2 separate regions of the Homo sapiens genome follow, and region 2 is linked to region 1. A link means that fine-mapping ties the variant in region 1 to the expression of a gene that starts in the linked region. Tissue or cell type: whole blood. Region 1 holds a variant in brackets; the other region holds the start of a gene. All regions are shown on one strand. Distances are from middle to middle.

Region 1 (4,166 bases):
CTGTTTCTCCCTTGCAGTATAGCATAGTGTGTTAGAATGCAGATATGGAGATAAGAAGACTCAGGCTCAAGTTCAGGCTTTGTCATTTGATGGTGTATGATTTGGGGCAAGTTGTTTGCCTTCTCTAGACTTTAGTTTCTTTGCCTGTAAGACGGAGGGAGGGAGGGGTTGACAATACCTACCTTTATTTCCTAAGATCCATCAGTGTGCTGAGCTGTTACGTTCTTCAAAAAGATTTCAGAGAAAGGAAAGCCTATAATGATTTGACTGGCTTCCTCACTAGCCTTTTATAAAAAGGTGGTTATATAGGTAATTACAACCTCACTGCTATTCTGAGATACTCAGAGATTAGCAGTTAGGATAGAGAGAAATGTCTCTTTTGGATTTGTTCAAAGTGTGGCTTTGAAATATTTAAACTAAATATCTAGAATTAGGACTTAACAGGGAAAAAAAAGTGCCAATACAACTTTGACAGTAAATAGATGAGCACATTTATGGTGGATATAAAAGATTCAGATGAAAGGGTGTTTCAAAGTACCACATATTTAAGAACTTGCTTACTTCCAAGAACATAATAATATAATTACTTGTTGGCTTGATATGTTAGTCTAGTATCATTTTAAGTTCCTTTTATTGAGAATTCTCTGGAACCACAAGAAATAATGAGGGATCTTACTCAAGGCCAATGCCACAGAATGATTCTCTGTCCCCTCTTCTGGTCATGAGACCTGCCAACCTTTCCCAAAGCTTTCAAATTCTCCAGCTCCAGATTCCCACGTCTTCTACTACTATTAAATGGGCCGAACTAAGTTCTGCCAGTTCAAAGCACTGTATTATTCTGTTGGTTTCTGGTACCTAAATATGCTTGCTTGCAAGGTTAGTTTTTTTCTTTATTATTATTATTATTATTATTATTGTTATTATTATTTTTGAGATGGAGTCTTGCTCTGTTGCCCAGGCTGGAGTGCAGTGGCACAATCTCGGCTCACTGTAACTTCCGCCTCCCGGGTTCAAGTGGTTCTCCTGCCTCAGCCTCCGGAGTAGCTGGGATTACAGGCATGTGCCACCAGGCCTGACTAATTTTTTTTGTATTTTTAGTTGAGTTGGGGTTTCACTATGTAGGTCAGGCTGGTCTTGAACTCCTGACCTCGTGATCCACCTGCCTCGGCCTCCCAAAGTGCTGGGATTATAGGCGTGAGCCACCGTGCCCAGCCGCAAGGTTAGTTTTATGCTTTCCCTTAACTTTGCTTGGGGTGGTTAGCAGTAAATCAGTGAATTTGTCTTTGTTTGTGAAATAACTTCAATATACTCACTGCTTATATCCATTAAGAGATTTAATGACAATACTATGGTGACTTTTGTATTTATTGGTCAAGTCACAGGTTTACAATGCCGATTTTATTGGCACTATATTTTTCCACTGACAACGGAGCCACTGCAGGGTCAGATGGCATCTGTGGAAAAAGAGCAAACAGTAACAGCATGAGAAATGGATTAGAGATGACTCAAGGAGGAGCTGGCTTCCTGGACCTATGATCTCATCCATGCCTAATGCTTACCACTTACTTATTCAAGGAAAGTAGTAAAATGTGGCAAGAGAGGAAAGAACAGCAGAAGAAAACCATACTATTAAGGCCCTAATGTCTTTGTCATAGCATCATAGTCCTAGAATTGTAAGTGACCTTAGATCTTCTAGTTCCCCCACCCTCCTAATGAAAGAAGTCATTTTCTGGGATGCCAGTATGGTTTGGCATTTAAGAGAATGGGTCTCAAGTTTGGTAGCTTAGGCTTTATTTATTCAACAAATATTTGCTGTGTCTTGCATAGTTCTGATGGTTTGAATATAGTGGTGAACGATCAGATTAAGCCCTGGTTTTCAAATAACTCAACTTTTCGTATGAGACATAGATGCTAACAAGTAAATACAGAAGTCAGGTGATGGTTTGTGCTATGGAAAAATAGGGTGAGGGGGGTCAGGAGTGCTGTGGGGAAGAGGGACTTCTACTTTATTAGATGATCAGGGAAGTCTCAGTGATAAGGTGTTATTTGAGCAGAGACCTGAAGGAAATGGGGAACAAGCCATACAGATATCTGGGAGAAGAGGGTTGTAGGCAGAGGGAAGCAGTATGGAGGTCTTAAGTTGGGAGTGTGCTTGGTGTATCCTGTTACAGCAAAGGAGGCTGGTGTGGCTGGAAA[A/AGT]GTGTGTGTGTGTGTGTGTGTGTGTGTGTGTGTGTGTGTGTGTGTAGGGGGAGTAGTAGGAGATGAAGGCTAAGTCCCATGATCTTCTCTCTGCAAGCTGGAGACCCAGGAGAACCAGTGGTGTATTTCCAGTCCAAGTCTGAAGGCTTGAGAACTAAGAGAGCCAGTGGTATAAGTCCCAGTCCGAGGGCAGGAGAAAACTGATGTCCCAGCTCAGGCAGTCAGGCAGGGAGACGAATTCTTTCCTCCTTTTGTTCTTTTTAGGCCCTTAATGGATTGGATGATGCCTGCTCGCAATGGGGAGGGTAAACTGCTTTACTCAGTTTACCGATGCAAGTGCTGATTGTATTAGTCTGTTTTCACACTGCTATAAAGAATACCTGAGATCTATAAAGGAAGGAGGTTTAATTGACTCACAGTTCTGCATGGATGGGGAGGCCTCAGGAAACTTACAATCATGGTGGAAGGGGAAGCAGCCACGTCTTACATAGTAGCAGGCGAGAAAGAGAGCACCACACTTATCAAACAACCAGATCTCGTGAGAATTCACTATCATGGGAACAGCATGGGGGATACTGCCCCTATAATCTAGTCACCTCCCACCAGGTCCCTCCCTCAACATCTGGGGGTTATAATTCAAGATGAGATTTGGGTGGGGACACAGAGCCAAGCTATATCACTGATCTTATCCAGAAACACACACACACATGCCCAGAAATGAGGCATATAGGAGGCATCCTGTGGCCAAGATGACACACAAAATTAACCTTTATGCATAGAGAATAAACTACAGGGGCCAGGGTGAAAGCAAGAAGACTACTTAGAAGGCAAACGTAATAATCCAGGCCAGAGATGATAGTGGCCTGGACCAGCAGATGGTAGGGGTTAATGTCTTTGGGCAGTCTATTGGGTCATTTTCTTTCATGTAATATAGGGATAATAAGAAATCATCTCACAAGATTATATAGAAGATTACAGTAGATAATCTAGATAAATTACTTAGTACACTGCCAGAATACAGCTAGCATATATAGCTCTACTCTTTTTAGTGTGGTTATCTAGCTTTTGACTGATAATTTCCAGGATTGGGACATACCATAGTACTGACTATTCAATTATTGGAAATTTCTAAATTGAAACCATCTTTGCTCTACATTCATTTGAAACTGGTTTCTATGTAAATTCTAACTATTAGCGTTACTTCCACTCTCTAAAATAAAATTGGTTAGAATCTAATTTTACTATTCCTGGTTGAAATCTAATTCTACTCACTAGCTGCATATTATTTGAATGAAGGTTATCTTTTTTTTAGAGGGCGGACGTCAGATTACTCATGAAAAATTCTCCTATAGTGCTCAGTCCAATGTAGGAAATAGTGAGCTATCTAGTAGTGAGATAAGTAGGCCTGCTATTAGTTCCAATTCTGTCAATAACTCTATGACTCGAATCAAGTTATTTCTCTAGAATTTCCTCATTTGTAAAAATGGTGGCTTGGTTTGGAATTTTTCTTTTTCTTTCTTTCTTTTTCTTTTTTTTTTTTTTTTTCCAGACAGAATCTCATTTTGTTGCCCAGGCTGGAGTACAGTGGTGCGATCTCAGCTCACTGTGACCTTTGCCTCCTGGGTTCAAGTGATTCTCCTGCCTTAGCCTCCTGAGTAGCTGGGATTATAGGTGCCTGTCACCATGCCCGGCTAATTTTTGTACTTTTAATAGAGATGGGGTTTCACCATGTTGGTCAGCCTGGTCTGGAACTCCTGACCTCAAGTGTTCCTCCCGCCTTGGCCTCCCAAAGTGCTGGGATTACAGATGTGAGCCACTGTACCCAGCTTGAGATTTTTCTAAAACCATGATTTCTTTTTCTTCATCATTTTCTCTTCTTTAAGCTGAGAATCCTCAATTACTTTAACCAGCCAAATTGTTTTCCTATGGGAGGTTTCAGTTTGGTAAGGAAGATATATCATTCATCTTAC
Region 2 (4,166 bases), 140 kb before region 1:
CCCAAATGAAATGCCTGCTCCCCCTTTGTCTTCTGCCATGATTGGAAGTTTCCTGAGGCTTTCACCAGAAGCAAATACTGGCGCCATGCTTCTTGTACTGTCTGCAGAACCACGAATCAATAAAACCTATTTTCTTTATAAACTACCCTGCCTCAAGTGTTTCTTTATAGTAACGCAAAAAAAAAAAAAAGCCTAATACAGAAAGTATTTCACTGTCTGGCTTCCATGATGCCTCAGTTCTAAAGTTAAATATTCAGGGTTAAGTAAAATAAAAACTTTCACAATTCTACTTGTCCCACAAACACCTCAAATTAGTAAAAAGAATAATAAATCACAGCTACAATAAAACTATTAGGGGATAAAATTTCTACAACATCATGTTTTTAAAAATAATTTGTCTAGAACAAAACATGGGATTCTTTCAACTACCAACTCTTCCCCAAGCATTACTGTGTTGGCCACTTACAGTATATTTACATGACTTCTCTAATTTTTTCCTGACATGAAGAAAATTCACCATTTCTTTGGCATCTCAACCCTGCCCCCACCAGAAGACCAAAATACAAACAAAAAATTGGAGAAAAAGTGCAGAGCCTCTTTGGCTAGCAGCGAGATAGTGCAGCCAATTTTGTTGTTGTATTAAAAATAATTTTAAAATAACATGTTGTTAAGCAATAGTTTATGTGAAAACTTATATTTAAAAAGCCATGCTTTACTTAAATATGCCCTTCTTAGGGCACATACCACTTTAAACAAACAAAAGGCACACCTTGTAATCTTAACCCAGATTGTGACCACAGGCTGGTTGAGGCTTAAAAAAAATCCGGGTTTAGGAAGAGCGCTTCAACCTCTTCCCAAGTGTGGCTGAGTCGTAAACATATACGAAATAACCGCAGACTAAGCTAATATCAAAGAATGCTAAGAGATGCGACTCGGATTTTTAAATGTTTGGAAACATGTCAAGAAGCGGGTACACCTGAAACAGACACTGCATGCATCCTGGATAAACTGCCGCAGCACACTCCTCTATTCAGTCAAGTTTCCGTTTCACACCTCCAGTCAAATCAGGGCTCATATCGCCCTCCCTTAAAACAGACACAGGTTCGAAACCGAGACAGTGCTGGGCTCACATTTAACTTTCTTTCAGAGTTCACTTTCTTCATTTTTAACTACTTTCTCAAGTAGCAACAGCTTTCACCGCTGTTTGCCAGGGAGGGAAACTTTTTGGTAAATGTAAAAATATTCGAAAGTATTCAAATACTTCCGGGTCTAGCCTTATAACTTCAGTCTTAACGGGCTGCACCAAGACCTTACAATAACTTCAAAAGGCAAAAGATGTGTAATGAAAAGGACAAAATTAGAACATCCACTTAGCAACTTCAAAGGTGCACACACACAGGTAAAAAAAAAAATCAAATCCAAGACCTACAAACTTCCCGTCAAATGATGAAATGTTAACGAACGTTTAGAGCGGACGAGAAGTCGGCTGCACTCCAATACATCTCTACCACGCTAACAAATACTTTAAAAACCGGAATACACAAAGTCAATTCTACGCCATCGCTCAAAACAAAAGCAGATAAATTGTGCACACATTCTCGCTGAAAATCACTCCGACTTCACGCCTCTAAACACCAAAAGAGCAAGAAAACTGTTTCCTGGGTGAAAAATACAAAAAAACTTCGGTCTGAAAAATTCATCAGTTGGGATGCGACTCCCCCCACCTTTTTCCTCCTCCTCCTCCTCCTCGTCGTCCTCGTCCTCTTCCTCCTCGCTCTCCTCTCTGGGACCGGGCATTTCGGGTTCTTTCTCGGACGCGGGCTGGGTGGGGGTTCCCTCCCCCTCCGCAGCAGGGGCCGAGGCGGACATGCTGTGAACCTGCATGCGGGAAGAAAGCCGGACGTCTCGGTCCTCCTACTCCCGCAGGCAGGACCGGGCGGCCACCCTGAATGATGCTACCCTTCCCGCGGGACACCTGCCCTGAAAGTTGCCTCCTCCCATAGCCGGGACCGCAGCGCTCAGTCCCCAGGGGCGGCTTCCCTCCCGCTCCGCCGCCGCCGTCCAGGGATTCCCGAGGCGGGAAACCGCGCCCGCTGCCCCGCGTGCGCGCGCGCCCGCCCGGCCTGCGCTGTTCCCGGCCCGGCCCGAGCTGCCGGCCCTCCACGTCCCCTCCCCCGCCCCAGGCCGCCGTCCAAATGGCCGCGTCCCTCCCCCGTCGGCCGCGGCAGGGGCGACCGGGCCTCCGGCGTCCCGAAGCAGCCCTTACCGCGGATTTCGGCCGCCGCGGGCCTGGCACGCGAGGGCACGAGGAGGTTCTGGGAGGCGGCGGCGGCCGACGCCGAGGAGAAGGCGCGCGGGCCGCTGTCTGGCGTGACGCTCGCGCCGCGCGCTCGGCTCCCCAGAATCAACAAGATTTTCAAAATGGCGGTTCGGGAAGGAGAGCGGGAATGCGGCGACCAATCAGGGCCGCGAGCTGGGAGTTGGCGGGCGCGGGGCGGGGGAGGCGGGGCGGCCGGGTGCCTCCGCGGGAAGCTCGGGCGGGCGGGACCGCGAGGGGTCGCCTCGGCCGCGGGCGGAGGGATGCGCGCGCGGGGCTCTCCCCGGCTGCGCCTGGAGTGTGGTCGGCGCTCGGGCCCCGGAGTGCGGGCGGGCTGTGTCCCGCGGGGCGGGCGGGAGCGGGAGGCGAGGCGGCCTGGCAGCGCGGAACGGAAGGACGCTAGGGGGCCTGCGTGTTTATTGTTTCCACGGTCGCTTCCTGGAAAAGATGATGAGCAGTCCCGGGCCGCGGAGGGGCGCGGCGGGCGCGGTAAAGAAGTTTAGAGATCTCCGAAGTCGCTATCGACAGTGTTACTCTGAGGCGGAGGAGAATTAATCAGCGGTCTCATCAATGCTCCAGAAATCATGCTGGGTGATAGATAACTCCCAAATCTGTATTTCTGAGGACCGCATCGCTTGTAAGGTGCACCGAAAGGAAAAAGATCCTACCTGCCACGTTAAAGGTTCACATAGCCAGCCACATAGATTTACACCCCTGTAAATATAAGGGGAGAGGCTCCCTCCCACCCCATTCCTTCTCCTCTCCTCTCTCACACACACTCTCTGTTTTATAATAGAGGAAATATGTTATTTGGCCGGGTCCAGACCCTTCTCCCAGAGTTCTAGGTCATCTATGCAGATGCTTTTTACACATTCAACACTGCAGACACTCAAAGCAGTATCTTCCCTGCTCAATGCTGCCTTCTTTTGTATGTGATTTCCTTTATTTTCTCCCAACTCTTCAACCACTAGCTCACCTGAAGGATCCTTGTACTCAGTGGACTTAATAGAAATGTGATCAGTGAAATTTGCCTGGACTCTGGGTTGCAGGACAAAAATTAGACATTTCCTTTGAATCTTCCCTTTTCCTTTTGTTCCCCTTCCAAAACATACGCGAATAGTGTCATTTCTACCCTCAAACGGTATGCCATTTTCCACACTATTTATCCCACTCAAATCCTATCCACACTCCACAGCTCATCTCTCCTTCTTGCTGCCTGCAACGTGGTTGGGAGTGGGGGGTTGTGTTTCACCCCTATTTGTGTTACAGCTCTTTCAATCCTACCATTTGGCAGGTCCTGAGTTCTGGTCCTGTGTCCAGGAAGAGTGAGGCACGCAAACAACTGGAGGGTGAGCAAGGTGGACAGGAGCTTCACTGAGGGACAGAACAGCTCTCCTGAGACCTGAAGTGGGTTGCTCCTTTCTGCAGGGGGGTTGTCCCGACTAGCGTCCTGCCCTCAGTGGAGAGGAGACCCATAGTGGGCAGCTCCTTTCTGCAGGCAGGTGGTCCTGACGAGTTGAGGAGACCAAAGTGGGTAGCTCCTTCCTGCAGCTGGTAGGCCTGAGCGCTGGCTGAGTCTGGGGTTTTTATGGGCTCAGAAGGGAGGAAGTGTGTGCTGATTGGCCCATGGGTGGGCCCAGAAAAAGCACCACTAGTTTTCACTCTGGGCTGCAGACTCTACCTGGAACTGGCCACCAGGCCCCCCAGGCTTCAGGCCATCCCTGGCTTGAAGGTGGGCAGGGACCTACCCCTTTCCCCCCAGGAACGTGTCTGCCTCCCACCATCAACATGTCATCCATGGCGCCCAGGCTGTTTGTGCTGAGGGGTGCCTGCAGGCCCACGCGGAGCC

The links. PIP is the estimated chance that this variant, and not a neighbour inherited with it, causes the effect.
Region 2: it holds the start of DEK, and the variant in region 1 is fine-mapped to the expression of DEK in whole blood (INTERVAL, PIP 0.96).

What each region holds. Positions count from the first base shown.
Region 1 is chr6:18,404,261-18,408,426 of GRCh38, forward strand. All of the region lies in intron 2 of RNF144B (ring finger protein 144B), which reads left to right. Among named protein-coding and RNA genes, the nearest start is that of RNF144B, 19 kb to the left of the region's middle. The variant A/AGT (reference allele first, on the strand shown) is at 2,197.
Region 2 is chr6:18,262,119-18,266,284 of GRCh38, forward strand. It overlaps DEK (DEK proto-oncogene), which reads right to left and starts at 2,412. Exons shown (of 11, transcript NM_003472.4): 1 at 2,267-2,412; 2 at 1,725-1,878. The coding sequence starts at 1,869. It overlaps LOC124901270 (a long non-coding RNA gene), which reads left to right and starts at 2,414. Exons shown (of 2, transcript XR_007059486.1): 1 at 2,414-2,959; 2 at 3,612-4,166. RefSeq lists an enhancer at 1,536-2,087 and silencers at 1,973-2,032, 2,093-2,452, 2,493-2,772.